Linked DNA regions of Homo sapiens: region 1 is linked to region 2. Evidence: fine-mapped expression QTL. A gene starts in region 2. The other region holds a variant in brackets. All regions are shown on one strand. Distances are from middle to middle. Region 1 overlaps KCTD16 (potassium channel tetramerization domain containing 16). Region 2 holds the start of YIPF5 (Yip1 domain family member 5).

Evidence for each region. PIP is the estimated chance that this variant, and not a neighbour inherited with it, causes the effect. A credible set is the group of variants that fine-mapping cannot tell apart.
Region 1: its variant is the best candidate, but not a certain one, in a credible set for the expression of YIPF5 in monocytes after LPS (Fairfax 2014, PIP 0.55).

Annotation. Positions count from the first base shown.
Region 1 is chr5:144,376,929-144,385,513 of GRCh38, forward strand. All of the region lies in intron 3 of KCTD16 (potassium channel tetramerization domain containing 16), which reads left to right. Among named protein-coding and RNA genes, the nearest start is that of KCTD16, 210 kb to the left of the region's middle. RefSeq lists an enhancer at 5,714-6,913. The variant T/TATACATAC (reference allele first, on the strand shown) is at 5,089.
Region 2 is chr5:144,166,803-144,175,317 of GRCh38, forward strand. YIPF5 (Yip1 domain family member 5) reads right to left here and starts at 3,857. Exons shown (of 6, transcript NM_030799.9): 1 at 3,733-3,857; 2 at 3,044-3,163. The coding sequence starts at 3,153. KCTD16 (potassium channel tetramerization domain containing 16) reads left to right here and starts at 4,071. Exons shown (of 4, transcript NM_020768.4): 1 at 4,071-4,207; 2 at 7,505-7,670. RefSeq lists an enhancer at 3,719-3,998.

The sequences.
Region 1 (8,585 bases), 210 kb after region 2:
GTCTTTCTGTTGGCCATTCAAGATTACAGAAGAAACCCAGCGGACTATTCCTTATTGCAGGCTTGGGTGTACATATCTACGCATTCAGACTTGGGATAACACTGGATGAGGAGGTGGTGTTTTAGGGATTGTTTCTCTATTTTATCAAACTCATTTCCTACCCCATTTCCTCCAACAGGTCTGCAATTATAGCTCTCCAATGCTGGCCATCCTTCATGGAGCCCTTCTCTGTTCAAGGAGAAACATCCCCTATTGGACTGTCTCTCTTTTTACTTTCTCTTGGGGTTCCTTGATCATCTTAACTATAACATTTTCAAATACATATTAATAGAGGTCCTGGATACAGCATACATGAGTCAAGTGGCTGGATATCAGGCTATAAGGAATGGAGTGGACAGTGGCAAACTGGTAAATTTATATCCTGGCTCAAGGGCAGCTGAGACTCAGCTCTAGCTAATTGCTGCCAGACATGAAAGTTGGCTAGAGTAGCCAGATCTGATATTCAACAGAACACACAAATTAGGAACTGCATGTGACACTTATTAATTTTATTACATTATACAATTAAAGAAAATGCCTCTCTGGGGCCAGAGTCAGTCCACAGACCAGCAGTTTATGACCCTTTGTTTAACCCTCTCTTCTCCAAACTTACCCAATCTGCTACATACATTTAAAACTCTGGGTTGAAGAGGGGAGAAGAGAAGCCCTCCCTAAATTTAAGCTTCTGAGAAGATTATTTAAAAATCCATCAGCCAAGAATGACATCCTGCTGACAAGTCTTCTGCAGGCTGTTGTGCTAAATGTGTCATTTCAGGTTCACTAAGTTCTCAGACCCAGGAGTGACTAGGGACATGGAAAAGAGAGCAGTGATAATCAAACTCTCCATCCCTCCACATCTGGTAAACCTCCCTTTCCACAATGCCATGATTTTGTGCAATTAGGTAGGTAATTATCTGTTGCATCTCTTTTTCAATCTTATATACTTTGTTTTCCTGTAACTTCCTTCCATTCCAAGTAAGGGAAAGCATGAATGTATGTGTTGTGTGTGTCCTTGTCCTTTCATATACATAGATATCATAACTTGAAATTGGTCAGAAGGGGACGTTAATTATAAGAAAACAAAGGAACTTAAACACTTAGCAGATATTCAGATTTCCATGCATGGTTTGGGATTTTAAGGAGGTTTTCCTGAATTTCAAAGAACACAGCCTTCCCTCCTTCTGTGCTCTCCCTCTTTTTCCCCAGGGAAAGGAAGACTACTAGCCTGGAGGTTGGGGTAGGAAGGTATATTTAGAATTGCAGGAAAAATCTGTAGTGAAAAGTAATAGAAGAACTTACAGCTATGAAATTCCAGACACAGAGATGAAATTAGACTAATATGTATATGAATAAGGTGGTGTATATTGCCAGATAATATACCAAATGTAGTTTCTTGCTTTGTCAGGTCATTGATAAGTAGTTTACAGGATTTGAATCAATACTATTTTTTATTTCTTCTAAAGATGCTAGATCATATTCTCTTACTCTACTGAAATGTCGTATCTAGCTAGTTGAAGAGTGGTTTTCATTTCTATAATAAAATTCTGGAAATAATTACTTAGTTTCAGATGTGTGCAATATGTTAAGGCCAATATGCAGGGCTACTTCTTTTTTGAACAGTTTTGGAATCCAACTTTATTAAGTATGTCATTTCTATGCCTTTGTTATATTCTTGTGTAATTTAAATAAGATGTTTAAAGTGCATTAAAATCATCTCACATGTGTCATCAATGGCAGGTTAACTTCATTAGATTAGCCCTAGTCAAGGCAACAGAATAGACTTGTGTTTTTCAATTATTCAAGTAAACAGCTAATGTACCAGGCATGGATTGAGCTGAACCAACGTGTTATTTGGCCTCTTCTCTCTGCTTCACTGCATATAGACAGATGGTTGTTTTGTATTAAATGACTTTTTACAATGCATTAATCTTATGCTAACATTCGTCATAGGAGAAAATGCAAGCATCCGTGAAATGGGATTTGGCGATATTAATTGTGGCCTTTCTCTTAGATGCCTTGGCTTCAGAGTGAATATTCATTTACAACTCATGGAGAAAGGGATGCATCCTGGAATACTGACGTTTGGCAATTGTCAGATGAACTTTCTGCTTTCAGCATATTTTGTGCTCAAAAGTAGATTCTTTTTATTATGAAATGTTTGAGGCAGGTATATGCCTTTTACGACTACCCATGTCTTCCTTCTCTCCTGCCCATAAGGTTTTCCCATTTTTATGCCTGCTCTTTGGCCTAACTCCCCACATGTTCCCATGGATGACAAGAAAGATATGAGAGGGAGTCTCTTTTCATATTTAGGCTGTGTTTACACATTGGGTTAGACTTTGGATAAAGATTGGAGGATTAGTAAATAGATATTTCACGTACTAGAAGAAGAGGGGCTTACTTGAAATGGGTTTAGAATTGTAATAAGATGAATTTAGGTGTCCTATAAATAAGCTTTGTGACTATAGGGACTGTGAGAGAACAGAGTGCATTACTGATGGAGGGTTTGGGAGTTACTTTTGGAGGATATCTTTAAGAATATCATTATAATAGATTAAAGACAAGGAGTTCATTTGGGAGCTTGGGGGCATGTTCCAGTCCTAAATATGGTTGTTATTTTATTTTCAAAGGTAACATCTTCAACAAGTTTTCAGACAGGTTTCTTTGTATGGGTATGACAGAAAATATATAATTATTCACTCTTTCTTTTAAATTAAAGTTTCACAAAGATGGCCTTTGCAAACACACCAAATAAGATCATCCATGCCTTTTTCTTTTTAGTTGGCATTTGATGTTGAGAATTTTAGCTAGGCTGAGTCAGTAGTTATTGTTTCAAATATTTATCACTGACTTGAGAAACATATTTATAAAAGTTATATTCAAATAAAGCAAAATGTAAATAAAAGAATAAACCAAACATCCATGTATTTCCAACACTTACATGTATTGTATTGTAAATGTAGTCTATATTTTTAATTTTTTTCATTTTCCTTACATACATACTCTGGTATAGACGGCAGTATGCTGGTTTTATACATATATGCAGTTGCAAGTGTGGTTTCCTCTGCCGAGATTCTATACCTAAAAAATATTCTACACTTATGGTTCTATACCTAGAAAACCCCATAGTCTCTGACCAAAGGGTCCTATAAATGATAAATAACTTTGGTAAAGTTTCAGGCTACAAAATAAATATACAAAAATCAGTTACATTTCTTTACACCAATAATGTCCAAGCTGAGAGTAAAATCAAGAGTACAATCCCATTCACAACAGCCACAAAAAGAATAAAATACCTAGGAATACAGCTTACCAAGGAGGTAAATGATATTTACAATGAGAGTTACAAAACACCACTGAAAAAAACCAGAGACAGCACAAACAAATGGAAAAACATTCCATGCTCATGGATAAGAAGAATCAATATTTTTAAAATGGCTACACTGCTCAAAGTAATTTACAGATTCAATGCTATTTATATCAAACTATGAATGCCATTTTTTACAGAATTAGAGAAGACTATTTTGAAATTCACTTGGAACTGAAAAGGAGCCTAACTAGCCATAGCAATTCTAAGTAAAAAGAACAAAGCCAGATGCATCACACTACTCAACTTCAAACTACATTATGAGGCTCCAGTTACCAAAACAGCATGGTACTGGTACAAAACCAGACACATAGATCAATGGAACAGGTTACAGAACAACTATATGATCTTCAACAAAGTCAACAACAACAAGCAATGGGGGAAAGACTCCCTATTCAATAAATGATGCTGGGATAACTGACTAGCCATATGCAGAAGATCGAAACTGGACTACTTCCTTGCACCATATAAAAATCAACTCAAAATGGATTAAAGACTTAAATGAAAACCTAAAACTACAAAAACCCCAGAAGAAAACTTAGGAAATACCATTCTAGACATAGGCCTTGGCAAAGATTTCATGACAAAGTCTCCACAAACAATTGTAACAGAAACAAAAATAGACAAGTGAGACCCCAGAGTTTCTGCACAGCAAAAGAAACTATCAACAGAGTAAACAGACAACCTATAGAATGGGATAAGACATTTGCAAACTATGCATCTGATAAAGGTCTAATATCCTGAATCTATAAGAAACTTAAACAAATTAACAAGGAAAAAACAAGCAACCCCATTAAAAAATGAGCAAAGGACACGAACAGACACTTTTCAAAAGAAGACATACAAGCATATGAAAAAAAAGTTCAACATCAGTAACCATCAGAGAAATGCAAATCAAAACCACAATGAGATACCGTCTCACACCACTCAGAATGACTATTATTAAAAAGTCAAAAAATAACAGATATTGGCAAGGTTGTGGAGAAAAGAGAACATTTATACACTGCTGGTGGGAATGTAAATTAGTTCAGCCACTGCAGAAAGCAGTGTATTAGGCTGTTCTTGCATTGCTATAAGGAAATACCTGAGACTGGGCAATATTTAAAGAAAAGAGGTTTTTGGCTCAAGGCTCTGCAGGCTTGGAAGCATAGGGCTGGCATCTGCTTGGCTTCTAGGGAGGCCTCAGGAAGTTTACAATCATGATGGAAGGCAAAGGGGGAGTAGGCATGTCACATGGCAAAAGCAGAAGCAAGTGAGAAAGAGTGGAGGGGGGAGGTGCCACACACTTTTGAACCACCAGATCTCGTGTGAACTCAGAGCAGGAGCTCACTTATCACCAATGGGATGGCCCAAGCCATTCATAAGAGATCCATCCCCATGATTCAAACACCTCTCACCAGTCCCCACCTCCAGCATTGGAAATGACAATTCAACATGAGATTTGGGTAAGGACATATGTTCAAACCATCTCAAGAAGTTTGGAGATTTATCAAAGAATCTAAAAGATAACTACCATTTGACCCAGCAATTCCATTATTGGGTACATACCTAAAGGAATATAAATAATTCTTCTAAGAAGCCACATGCACCCATATGTTCATTGCAGCACTATTTACAATAGCAAAGATATGGAATCAACCTAGGTTCCCATCAACAGTGGACTGGATGAAAGAAGATGTTTA[T/TATACATAC]ATACATACATACATACATACATACATACATATGATGGAATACTATGCAGCCCTAAAAATTGAAATCATGCCTTTTGCAGCAACATGGATGTAGCTGAGGCCATTATGCTAAGTAAATTAATACAGGAACAGAAAATCAAATACTACATATTCTCACTTATACGTGGGAGTTAAACACTGAGTACACATGGAACCAAAGATCGGAATAATAGACATAGGTTCTTACTTGAAGGATGAGCATGTGGGAAGAGGGTGAAGGTACTCTTTAGTCACTTCCTGGGTGACTAAATCATTTGTACACAAAACCCCAGCAATACGCAATTTACTCAGGTAATAAACCTGCACATGCACCCCTGAACCTAAAATAAAACTTGAAAAAAGATTTTAAAATATAAGAATAAAAAGAAATAAGCTCAGACATCAGCACCTCCAGGAAGGCTCCCTGGATTCTATGCCCCTCGCCTCTGACACCATACTTAGGATCCTCTTATTGAGCTCACTATAGTTAGTTGTTCCATACTCAGTATTGAATGAATGAATATGGAATAGAAACATCACCTTTCTCCCATATTATATGATAAACTACAAGAAAACTGGAAATTTGTTTTATTCATATCCACATACCTAGCCACCAGCACCATGCCTGACATGTAGTAGATGCTCAATAGCCAAGTAGTGAATGAATGACCATTTGTCCTTGAGGAGGTGAAGTTTTTATTTAAAGCATCTCTGGATCCACTGCGAGGTTCTGGATGTTCATCTCTTTTACTTCAGCATTTACTTAAGCTCTTATTTGGAGGTGCATTGAGTTATTCATTCTTCCTGGATCAAGAAAACAAGACCATGGCAGTAATGTCACCACTAAATTCTCATATTGCTTTGCCCAACTTGTGCATTTTTCACATGCTATTCCAAATATTGTTTCCTTTCTATTCAAAGCACCCACAATCCTCTGGTAGGGAGCTTCACGTTGGTTTTCCTAATCTGCTCTGGCAAAATAGTTTTGGCACTTAACTTCTACTCATTTCTTTCCTTACTGTTACCTCTGCAGAGAAGCAGAAACCTGCAAATTCACTGTCTGCAGATAAATGGGGCCATTTCACCTTCCCTGGTACCTCACAGGTAAGTTTGAAAAGAGCAGAAGACGCATAGTTGAAGGGGACCTAGGGACTCTCTTAAATGATAAATGACGATTTAGAAAATTGCCCACCTTAGCTGTAAACTGTACTTACTGGGCAAGTTGAGGAATTAAACTGTCATCTTTCATCCTGTAGAGCTGACATTTCTCTGCGTCAGAGCTGCCATTTTGACCTTTCTTTTCACATTTTGTTGAGTTATTCACTCCCTGGCTCAGCTTTTTTGATTTGAAATATTCAGATCTACCTTTTTCACGGGATGGATCTCTTGTTTTCTCCCTAGTCTTTTCTCATGCCACTGAACTGCATCATATGTTAATAAGCTTTTTACTGTGCTAAATTGCTTTGTTTCTGTAGCTGATTTGAAGGCAAAAAGGCCCTAGAGGGTGAAGGAAAAAAAAAAAAAGAAACATTCTAAAGTAATTAGAATGATTACAGCAGCTGAAAACATTGCTTTCCTAAAACTGCAATATTTTTTCAGGAGATTTTTTTTTTTCTTTTACAAAAGCCCATGAGGTACTAGGATTAGTGTTTGCAAAGCAAATGGTGGCTGGTAGTTTTTCATTATAGAGACGAATGAGAGTCATACATTGGAAATTTTAAAATGCATTATCATGACCAGCCATAGGCTTATCTTGCTCATCCTTTATTTGGTTTCAGTTATGTCCTTTGCCTTCATGACCATCTGAGCCGAGGCTTAGCAGGCATTTCTGATGGGTTTGAAACACTTCGTTAAAAACCAATATTATAAAAAATACGTAAGAATCTATTCATTAAAAATGGTGAGTTGTAGACATCTTTTTGATCAGAAAAACCACAACAGTAAATGTGGCAGCTATGAATTAACACTTACAAATAGATGATTTCCCCCAGTGAAATATTAGTCTTTGTGCAATGGAATAAATAGCAGTTTTTTTCCTGAGGAAAAGCTGAACTTAATTTTCAAGATGAGTGGGAGTCATTGAAATGGGAGAGGATTTAAGATGGTGAGTTAATATATTTTATGCTCTTCTCTCATGCAGATCAGGTAGCAAGTGATGGAGCATTTCTACGTGTATCCAAACCTTTGCAAAATGGGTTGCCATCATTTCCTTGTAATGGATAGACAAAGTCCAGGCACTTCTTTGGCACCCTTATAGCTTTGAAAAGCTGGTAAGGGGATAGAACTGGAGGCTAAGGAAGAAGTGGGAAAGGAGCTTCGTCATTCTGTGTTTTAAATCCTTTCTCTGTTGTCTTCATCAGACATCTGACCAAAACGACAGCACTGTTGGCATTGCTGCTGAAATATACTAATACCTTACAATGAAGTTTTCAAAATAAATACATTTTTTCTAAGTAACTTTAACATAAAATTTTATTTATTTTTTCATTATAGCGAAATAAAATTTTATTTATTATAACATTGTTTTATTACATCTTCCAAAGTACATTACCTATTTTGCTACCATTTTAAAACAAAATATAGTAAACATAATTTAACCTCTTTCTGATGACTCAAGATAAATTTTACAAATATTCTATTGTTCCGTATTCATCATTAATGTTTGCACTATTATTTCTTTAATGTAGAGACCAAATGCTACAAAACAAATGAACTGTTGTGGTAATATTGGACAATTTTTAGGGTCTTATTTCTGGCTTCTAGCTTTTGTTTCCTAATGATGGTCACTTGGCTATTCTTTAAAGTTTTAGGATGGATAAGTAGGTAATTAAGAGTATAAAATAGCATGTAAGGAAGAGTCAATATAATCTGTAGGATGACCCCTTTCATGTAATGAAGTGCATACATTTTGTGATATTTATTTTGGATGTTTAGAAGCTCGTTCCCTTTTGGACTCACTGTTGGAAGTCTGACATTCAAATAAGTGGGACATTATGGCCTGTATTTTGGCTAAAGGGGATAATGTCTGCAGCTGGAATAAACAATCAGCAAAGTCATAAATCATAATTTCCTTCACACTTCATTGTAAGATAATAATATATGAGCGAAAACTATTTTCCTCTATTATAGCTGTCACTAAAGGAAAATTTCCATTCAGGCTATAACCTCTCAATAAAATATAAGGCACAAAAATTCAGAAAAATATATTTTTGTTTACTCGTAGATGCTGATGACTTCAGTGAAGATAGCATTGTTGCATAATGTCCACAAATCATTGATAATAAAAATATAACCAAGAACATGACATATGCATTTGTTACTTGTATTTTTATATTTAATTTTAAATAGTCTTCAGTAACATGCTTGGGGCCAAGCCATGGGGATTTATTTTTCATGTCCTTCACATCCACTTCTACTTCTTCTGAGTGGTTTCTTCATTGACAGTGGGTGGAAGGGACCAAATATGGACCATATTTCTT
Region 2 (8,515 bases):
TTAATAAAAAGATAATTCTTACTGCTTCCTCAAGAGAATCCTTAAATGAAACTGACTGTCTGCCAACTCTCTAACAAGTATATAGAGTGATGAATAATATGATGACTACTAGAACAACTTGATGCCACTACCTTGATTCATACTCAGGTACCAGCAGTTTTACCAATCAATACTTTTGCAACAGCACTGCAAATGTTAACATACCTAAAAAGGTATATGATATCTTAGTATTGTTATGAAAATAACTTTGACTTTAAAGAATCTCAGAAGAGTCTCAAGGACCCTCTGTAGTCTACAGCCTAAATTTTGAGAGTTGCTGATACAGACCAATAAATTTCATGTAAGGAAGAAAAGTACTGCAAGCAGTTGATTGTTTCAAAGGTGGCACCATCATTCCATCTTCAAGAGGAAAGGTGAGAATGACAATATCATAGAATTTTACTATTTTCCTTTTCTGGCAGGACCTATTCAGGAAAATTTCTGACTTGTTCCTGCTGGTTTTAAACTAAAACATGGTATGGCAGACACGATCTTTACAGGCTAAAACAACATGAAAAGCAGCAGATACTAAATCAATACTCTCATAAGTACTCTGTACCAGTAACAAAGACAAAGCCTCTTAACATATTGGGTTGGTTACCTAAGTTCATGGAAAACCTCAGATATTCCATAAAGATACTACCAGGTAAGTCAAAGAAGAAAAAAAATAACAGCTTTCATAATTTAAAAAATGTGACTTGGTATTATGATATATTTCATAAGCATATCTAGAATACAATGTGGAACCTGTCCAATTTTCCATTTATATAACTCAACAGATTATGATCAAAGGGCCTTTTATACTTTTTTGTTTTTGTTTTTTTGGTGAATGGATCTATGAATGATACTTGTGAAACACCTATAGAGGAAACCAAAAAATGTTAAAGCTGACTTCATTATGGCAAATGCAGAACTGTGTACTAATAACAAGTCAAGTTAAAAACATAAAGACAATGCAAGTAATATGCTATTTGCACCTAGATTTTCACCAATGGAGAGCTAAAAGTTATTAGCGGATCTTTGTTACTAAATTAGCAAATCAAACAAAATATTATTTGGTTAACGGAGATGGACATTTAAAATGTCATTAGATTGCAGATCTACTTGAAGGTACGCACAGAAGAGTCCAGTTTTTACAAAATAAATCTCAGAAACTCAAATTTATTACTGTTAATACATTAGGCTTCTTGTTTTCCCAGGCATCATCTATAAACCCAAGTTTATAGCAATAATGGTTATATAATCACCCAGAATAAAACTTCATCACTAGTACTGAAGCAATGCTTACTGGTACATGATTTGGTTGGAATGAAACTGTGAGAACAGTTGGCAACAGGTGCTAACCAGCAACAAGTTGTTTAGAATATCTAAATTGCTGTGTGGAGAACTGAAATGACTGTTAAAGGGAATGAGACTGTAAGTCACACCTTTTAAGTGATGCAAACGTGGACAGGACAGAAAAGAAAAGAAAAGCAGAGGCAGATAAATCTCGTAGGCTGCAATCTAAATGGAATAGCTCTGTTGAGTTCTAATCATAAAAACCATTCGGATAAAAACAGGCCTGCATAGAGAGACAGGTTCTCCGAAGCTGTGTTGCTGCTTTAGGCAAGGATTTATTAGATGGACTCTGGCTCTCCTATACACAGAGCAATCACCAAAAATACATATTTAGGTAAATAAATGAATGGAAATACCTCAATACAAATTTTCCAACTCTGCCCATTAATTTATCAAAAGAGATAAATCCTCATTGGTATGTAATTAAGTAACAGAAAAGAGAAATGAATCACGGGGTATTTTGACATGCTCACTCCCATTGTTCAAATGTGTTAAGTTTTAGAGGGGAAAACAAAGCCTTAAAATATACCAAATTAAGCAGACTCAAAGAGACTATATGTTTTAGAAAGGATAGCCTAACCAAGACAGACACTATTACAGAGCCACAGTGAATTTGAATTTTGTTTTGTTTTTTAAATTCTTGGGCACTCTAATCCAAACACATTCCTGTATTGCATGTTTCTCACAAACTGACAGATACATAACCTTCCCCTGCCCTCATCGTGGAACAGTCTTTATGAGGTTTCAAATTCGGGATCCATGATGAACATCATTTAACACATGAATTGTCTGAAGTTATATATGCACATTTATTTGGGTGTTTGAGTGAATGCATGTATTTATGGGAAAGAGGCCCAGTTGTAATAGGATTCTCAAAGAGATCCAGAACCATCTAAAAAAGTTTAAGCAATCCTAGTATAGGAAGCTCCTTTATTTGACAGGAAGCTGATAAGATTATCTCTAGGGTCCTAAGAAACTAAGGAGATGATGTTTTAGGTGAGATTGCTAGAAAGCCTTCAGTTCATGTATTTTTGTCACAAACACCAGGTACTATAAAAAGATCATTTAAAAAAAAATGTTCAGAGGCTAACGGCTTTGAGTCAACCTCCTCAGTATGCAACTTATAACACGTGTGGCACTGACCATAAGGGTTTGAGAAGGAGGAGTAATAAAAATGATTATCAACTGCTGTATGAAAATCGCCTGATGATTCGTAATAAGGAGCTTACATCATTAAATAATGTCACTAAGCACTTTCAATTAGCACTGATAAAAGTCTCAGAGTTGGACTGATTTAACTACTAACAAAATACTTTAATTTTTCACTGGTCCTATGAACTAACAGCCTATCTCCTAGGTACCTGAAGCTCCCATCATCTTCTAAATACAGAAATACTGTTACTAGAAAACAGTTCTTCAAACAAGCTACTTTTCCATTCATGGTACACCTGAAGAGTTTGCAGAAGACACTCAACTCTTAAATAGAACAATACCTTCGAAGCCAAGCCAGTGTCACATATCTCTCTAGAGGAAGAAGATTATGCATGAAAGATCATACTCCTGATAAAGGACATGTTCACATATTGTTTTAGGCAGAACCAAATATTCTAAATATGTGTTTTCACTGCAATGTAGACTAAATTAATTGCCAAAGATGAAAAGTTACTTGCTATAGGGTCCTCCACTTCCTCCATAATCATAGGACTGCTGTGACTGATCATCGATGCTGTAACTTGTCTGGTAGAAATCCGTGTTTAAGTTTTCAAAGCCTGACATTGCAAATAATCTGTAATAAAAGAGAAATGGCAAATATTCCTTATGCCCAAGGTTCTACTGAATTCGTTCCTGGCAGTCTGCTTAAGCAAATAGAAACACAACAAATATTTTTTCAGTAATTCGGAGAGGGGATGGGGGCGGAAAGTACGCAGCATTTGAACGACGGTAGCGGAGAGAGAGTAAGAAAATGTATATTCTTTTAAGTTGCGGCCCAGTAAGACAACTCCACCTTAAAGAGCTGATATGCCTTCCATTAGGGGCGAGGTCGTGGGAGTTGTGGTTCCATAAGCGGTCTAAAATATCAATAACAACAAAGATGATTTTTCACCTTAGGACTGGGCTTTACAGCTGACAAGGCGACTGCTTCCTTGCAAAATAAGGCCTGCGGCCTGCCAGGAAAAAGTGCAGAATCTGGAAGGTCGCGCCTGAGGTGCAGGGGACCGCGTCAGGGCAAGGGCTTGAATGAGAGCGAGGGTCTGAGCGAAAGGACCAGGGCGCGGCGCCGAAAGACGGCAACAAGCCCATTTGCACGGGTGTGGAGAGAAGCTGAACACTGTGCCACGGGCCTGGGTCACTCACCAAACTCTGAGGCTGCGCTGGCGGCAAAGGCAGTAGCTTCACTAATCCCAAACAACCCCCAAACTCTGTTTCAGACCCTGAACCAGCCCCGTTGCTACGTGTCACAGGGCCAAAGAACGGCTTCCGGGGCACGCCCGCTCGCGCAGGCGTGTTAGCAGGTTGGGCACCGGTGGGCGGGAGGAGGAGACACGAGTATGGAGCTTGCGCAGTATCTACCCAACCTGCGGCTGGCCCGTGCCAAAGAGGAAAGTGCTTCCGGCAGCCTGGTTAGGGGTGGAACCAGGAAAGCGCAGGCGTAGCAATTGCTGCTTACTCGTAGGTAGGAGGAGGAGTTTCTCAGACCTAGGTGATGGAGGAAGACTGGGAGGCGCTAAAATGAGACAGACGGAGTCCCCTCTCCTGTCCACAAACTACAATGCCTACAATGCCTCGGTGTCAGCATTTACTGTGATTCAAGCACTGTGCTAAAGTGTTTGTATGTATTATTTAATCTTTACAACCTAATGAGATGGTTACCCTATTTCCCTTTTGTAAGTGAAGCTATTAAGTATTCATTCATTCTGTGCTAGCTGCTGGGGATACTGTGGTAAATATAAGCTAGGTGACATCTACCCACCTGGAGTTGGTGGTGGAGAGGGGTAATCGAACACATACAAATGCATGTGAAATTGCTACTAATATTCTTTAGTGTTCCATAATTCTTTGAAAGAGTAACATTCATCTGGGAAGAAGAGTCTGTAAAGCCACTATAAGAGGGTTATCAAAGGGTGAGTGGGAGTTAGAGAAGACCAGAAAAGAGAAGAAAGGGCAACGGGAAAGGAGGATAAGGGAAAATAGCCTGAATATTTTAGGCAAAGAGAACAATGTGTGCAAGATCTGGGAAGCATGGTCTGAGGAAAGATGAAAATCGAGCTCTGAACTTCAGCATTATTAACATTTTGAGTCAGGATGTTTCTTTATTGGGGGCTGCCCTGTGCATGATGCTTAGCAGTAGCATCCCTAATCTCTAGCCATTAGATGCCAGTACTCCCCCCAACCAACCACCACCACCATCACCACCAAGTTGTGACAGCTAAAAATCTCTCCAGACATTGCCAAATCCAAATGTCCTTGGGGGCGGTGGGGGCAACATTAGCTGAATTTGTCAACCACTCTTCTAAGTGGAACCTGAGTGACTGGAACAGCAAGTGAGGGGAGCCACATAGGAGTTGAGGCTGGAATAACAGGAAGGGGCCAGGAAATATCCTGTGGGATTTGTGTGTTGGTTCTAAAAGAAGTGAAGATTGTGAACTGATGAGTGATGTTTAAATTGTTTTCTTTTGAAAATGATTGCTTTGGCTCCTGTGTTAAATCACTTTCCCAAGATGGTGGAATCCCGAATATTGTGACTCGAAATAAGATGCTATTAACTAATGAGCAGAACTTTCTTCAGGGTTTATAGCAATAAAATTTATCATGAGCCACTGCATTATATTCTGGGATCAAAATCCTGAGGCCCTCACAAAAGAAGCCAGACCATTGTTGGGGACTAGTTTCCAAAGGAACAATAAAATTTCACTTAAAACTTTTCTCTCAACACCCCCCACCCCAATAAAACAAACAGAAAACGCACTCCCCTCCAAACAAAAATAGCAACAACAAAAGGATGTAAGACCCAACCAAAAAACCTAGGATTGTACTCTAGAGACCAACAGGCAGCTGCCCTTTGAGGTTTTTACCCATTAGCGAATTTATTTGTTTTATTTTTGTGGATACATCATAGTTGTACATATTTATGAGATAAATGTGACATTTTGATACAAGCATACAATGTGTAATAATGAAATCTGGGTAATTGAGATATATCTGTCGCCTCAGACATTTGTCATTGCTTTGTGTAGAGAAAATTATAAATCTACTCCTAGTTATTTTGAACTATACAATAAATTATTGTTAACTATAGCTACCCTATTTTGCCACTGAACACTAGATTTTTGTGCTTTCTAACTATATTTTTGAATTTCTGAAATTGCTCATTCAAGTGTTCACCACCTTTCATCAATCATTTTAGCATTTATTGGTTTAGGTATCATCTGCACAACTTCAGGTAGAATGACCACATATTATGATTTGCTGGAGACAATTCCATTGTCCCATTTTCTGCCTATTTTTACTTACCCTCAGCATAATTATTAATGTTGCTCCCTTTTACTCTCAAAAATATCCTAATTCAGTTGATAAACTTTGTGATTGTACTTTCTTTAAGCTACATTATCCATGAAGCTGTGTTTCGAGTCATCAATAAGATGCAATAATCCATCATTATCTATTTAATTAATCTTATGGTTAAAAAAATTCTAGTCTCTTTTGTTTTTTTCTGATGTTTCTATTTCTTCTGAATCAAAAAGGATATCCCTTTCAAATTTGAATGAGCTACAAGAATATGAGCATTAAAAATTGCTGATTTAGATGCTGGCGAGGTTTTAGAGAAAAAGGAATGCGTATACACTGTTAGTGAGAGTGTAAATTAGTTCAGCCATTATGGAGGACAGTGTGGCGAATCCTCAAAGACCTAAAGACAGAAATACCATTCGACCCAGCAATCCCATTACTGGGAATACACCCAAAAGGATATAAATCAGTCTATCATAACTACGCATGCATGTGTATGTTCATTGCAGCACTATTCACAGTAGCAAAGACATGGAAGCAACTTAAATGTCCATCCATCATAGACTGGATAAAGAAAATGTGACACATATACACCATGAAATATTATACAGCCATAAAAAGTAGAATGAGGTAATGTCCTTTGCAGGGACATAGATGGAGCTGCAGGACATTATCCTTAGCAAACTAATGCAGGAACAGAAAACCAGATACCACATATTCTCCTTATAAGTATGAGCTAAATAATGAGAACACATGGACACATAGAGGGGAGCAACACACAGTGGGGCATATTGGAGGGAGGAGGGAGAGAATCAGGAAAAATAACTAATAGATACTAGGCTTAATACCTGGGTGATGAAATAATCTGTACAACAAACCCCCATGATACAAGTTTATCTATGTAACAAACCTGCACCTGTACCCCTGAACTTAAAATTTAAAAAATTTGCCTGTTTAGGAATGAATTATTAGATATAGATATTATTCAAATTCTACTTCTGTCTCTGAAAGCAATTAACGTATTTATTTAAATTTTCCCCTTTGAATTTCTGCTCCAATTGAGAAGCCAAGCAAGAACATTGAGTTACCTGATTAAGTTTTGCATATTGTTTATTTGACTTTGAAATGTAAGCCAAGGTATCCTGCTGATGCCCCTTAGAAATTTTGAGAACATCCACTAATTTCATGGCTAGTCACGTAGGAATTTCTTTTTGGATTTTTTTTTTTTTTTTGGCATTGCTCCCTCACTCTGGGATAGGCTCCAGAAAGTTATATTAAAGGAGACTGGAGTACTTGGTAAATGTGCCGTCCTCTGTTAAAGTCACCCAGCTGGCTTTATTAGGAGTAGAAAGCCTCACCCTAGGTCAAGAGATGAGGCAACATGAGCTAGACTTGTAATAGCTGCGCAGTCCTTCCCTGGGACCTAATGTATCCATCACCAAAACAAAAAGGGAAAGGACATCCTAATAATGAGTAATATCATTTAGTTAGACAGTCATGTTAGTATACACACTAACACTTTTACATGCTTCACAAACACACGCAAAACAACTCCATTTTCTTAGTATGGCTCTGAAACTAAGATATTTTAGAGTTACTTTCTTTCCCTTCTGTTTTTCAGTTCATATGTCATGAAAAGTTGTGCCAGAAAATTATGGTTTGAACATGGGCAGTTTTCTCCTACCGTCAGCTATATCCACAAGCATCACATGAAGTGGAGATCTGGCAGCTCTGTGTATTTCAGTCAAGTTCCACAATGAAACCTGACAATAATGGTAAAAACCAATGTAAGTGCCAGTGTTTGTTTTTACTCTCCCTATATATTAACTATGTAACCTCTTTTCCCAAATATGACAATTATATTTCCTCCAAATTATCTTTTTTCCCCTACCAAAGAGTTTCCTCATCAAGTCTCCTGTACTAGGTTATTCAAATTCTGCTTCTTTTGTTTCAATTATTTTACTTTGAACGATGAATAGTTTTGGGAAGACAGGTTTGCCCGTAATGGCATTGGATGCTTTTGTACAGAACTGGTTTTTAAAAGGCAAAGAAATTTAACCCCAATTTTATAACTATTCCTGGAAGCTTGACTTCAGTATTGCAAGTGCTGCATGTTGTTAAAAATAAGTCTTTTAAAGATAACATATAAGCAATATTGTAAATACTGTAAATATTTTCATTGTAGAGATCAAAAATACCCTCTTCAGTAACAAACCTTTCTAATGTCAGGTGAATGGCTATTGTGGCTTGGAATATGAATTTCAGTGAAAGCACTGAAGCACTGAAGTCTGTATTTCAAATAATTTGGGTAGTAGGGGAGATAATATGAAAAACAGCACGGGAGAACTCAAAGTGGGCTCTAATGATGGCAAAGCCACTCATGCCAAAGGTAAAAATGAAGCATTTGAAAAATATGACAGCTAACACCTATTTATACTTCAAGAATTTGTGTGCCAAGCATTTCTTTAAGCACTTTGCACTTTTTAACTCAATTACTCCTCCTCCTGACAACCCAATGAGGTAGGTGCCATGTAATGCCCATTTGACACATGAGGAAATTGAAACAGAGTAAGTAATTTGTTAAACATTATTATGGTAGAAAATAGTAGACTAGACATTTTGAACTTGTTCC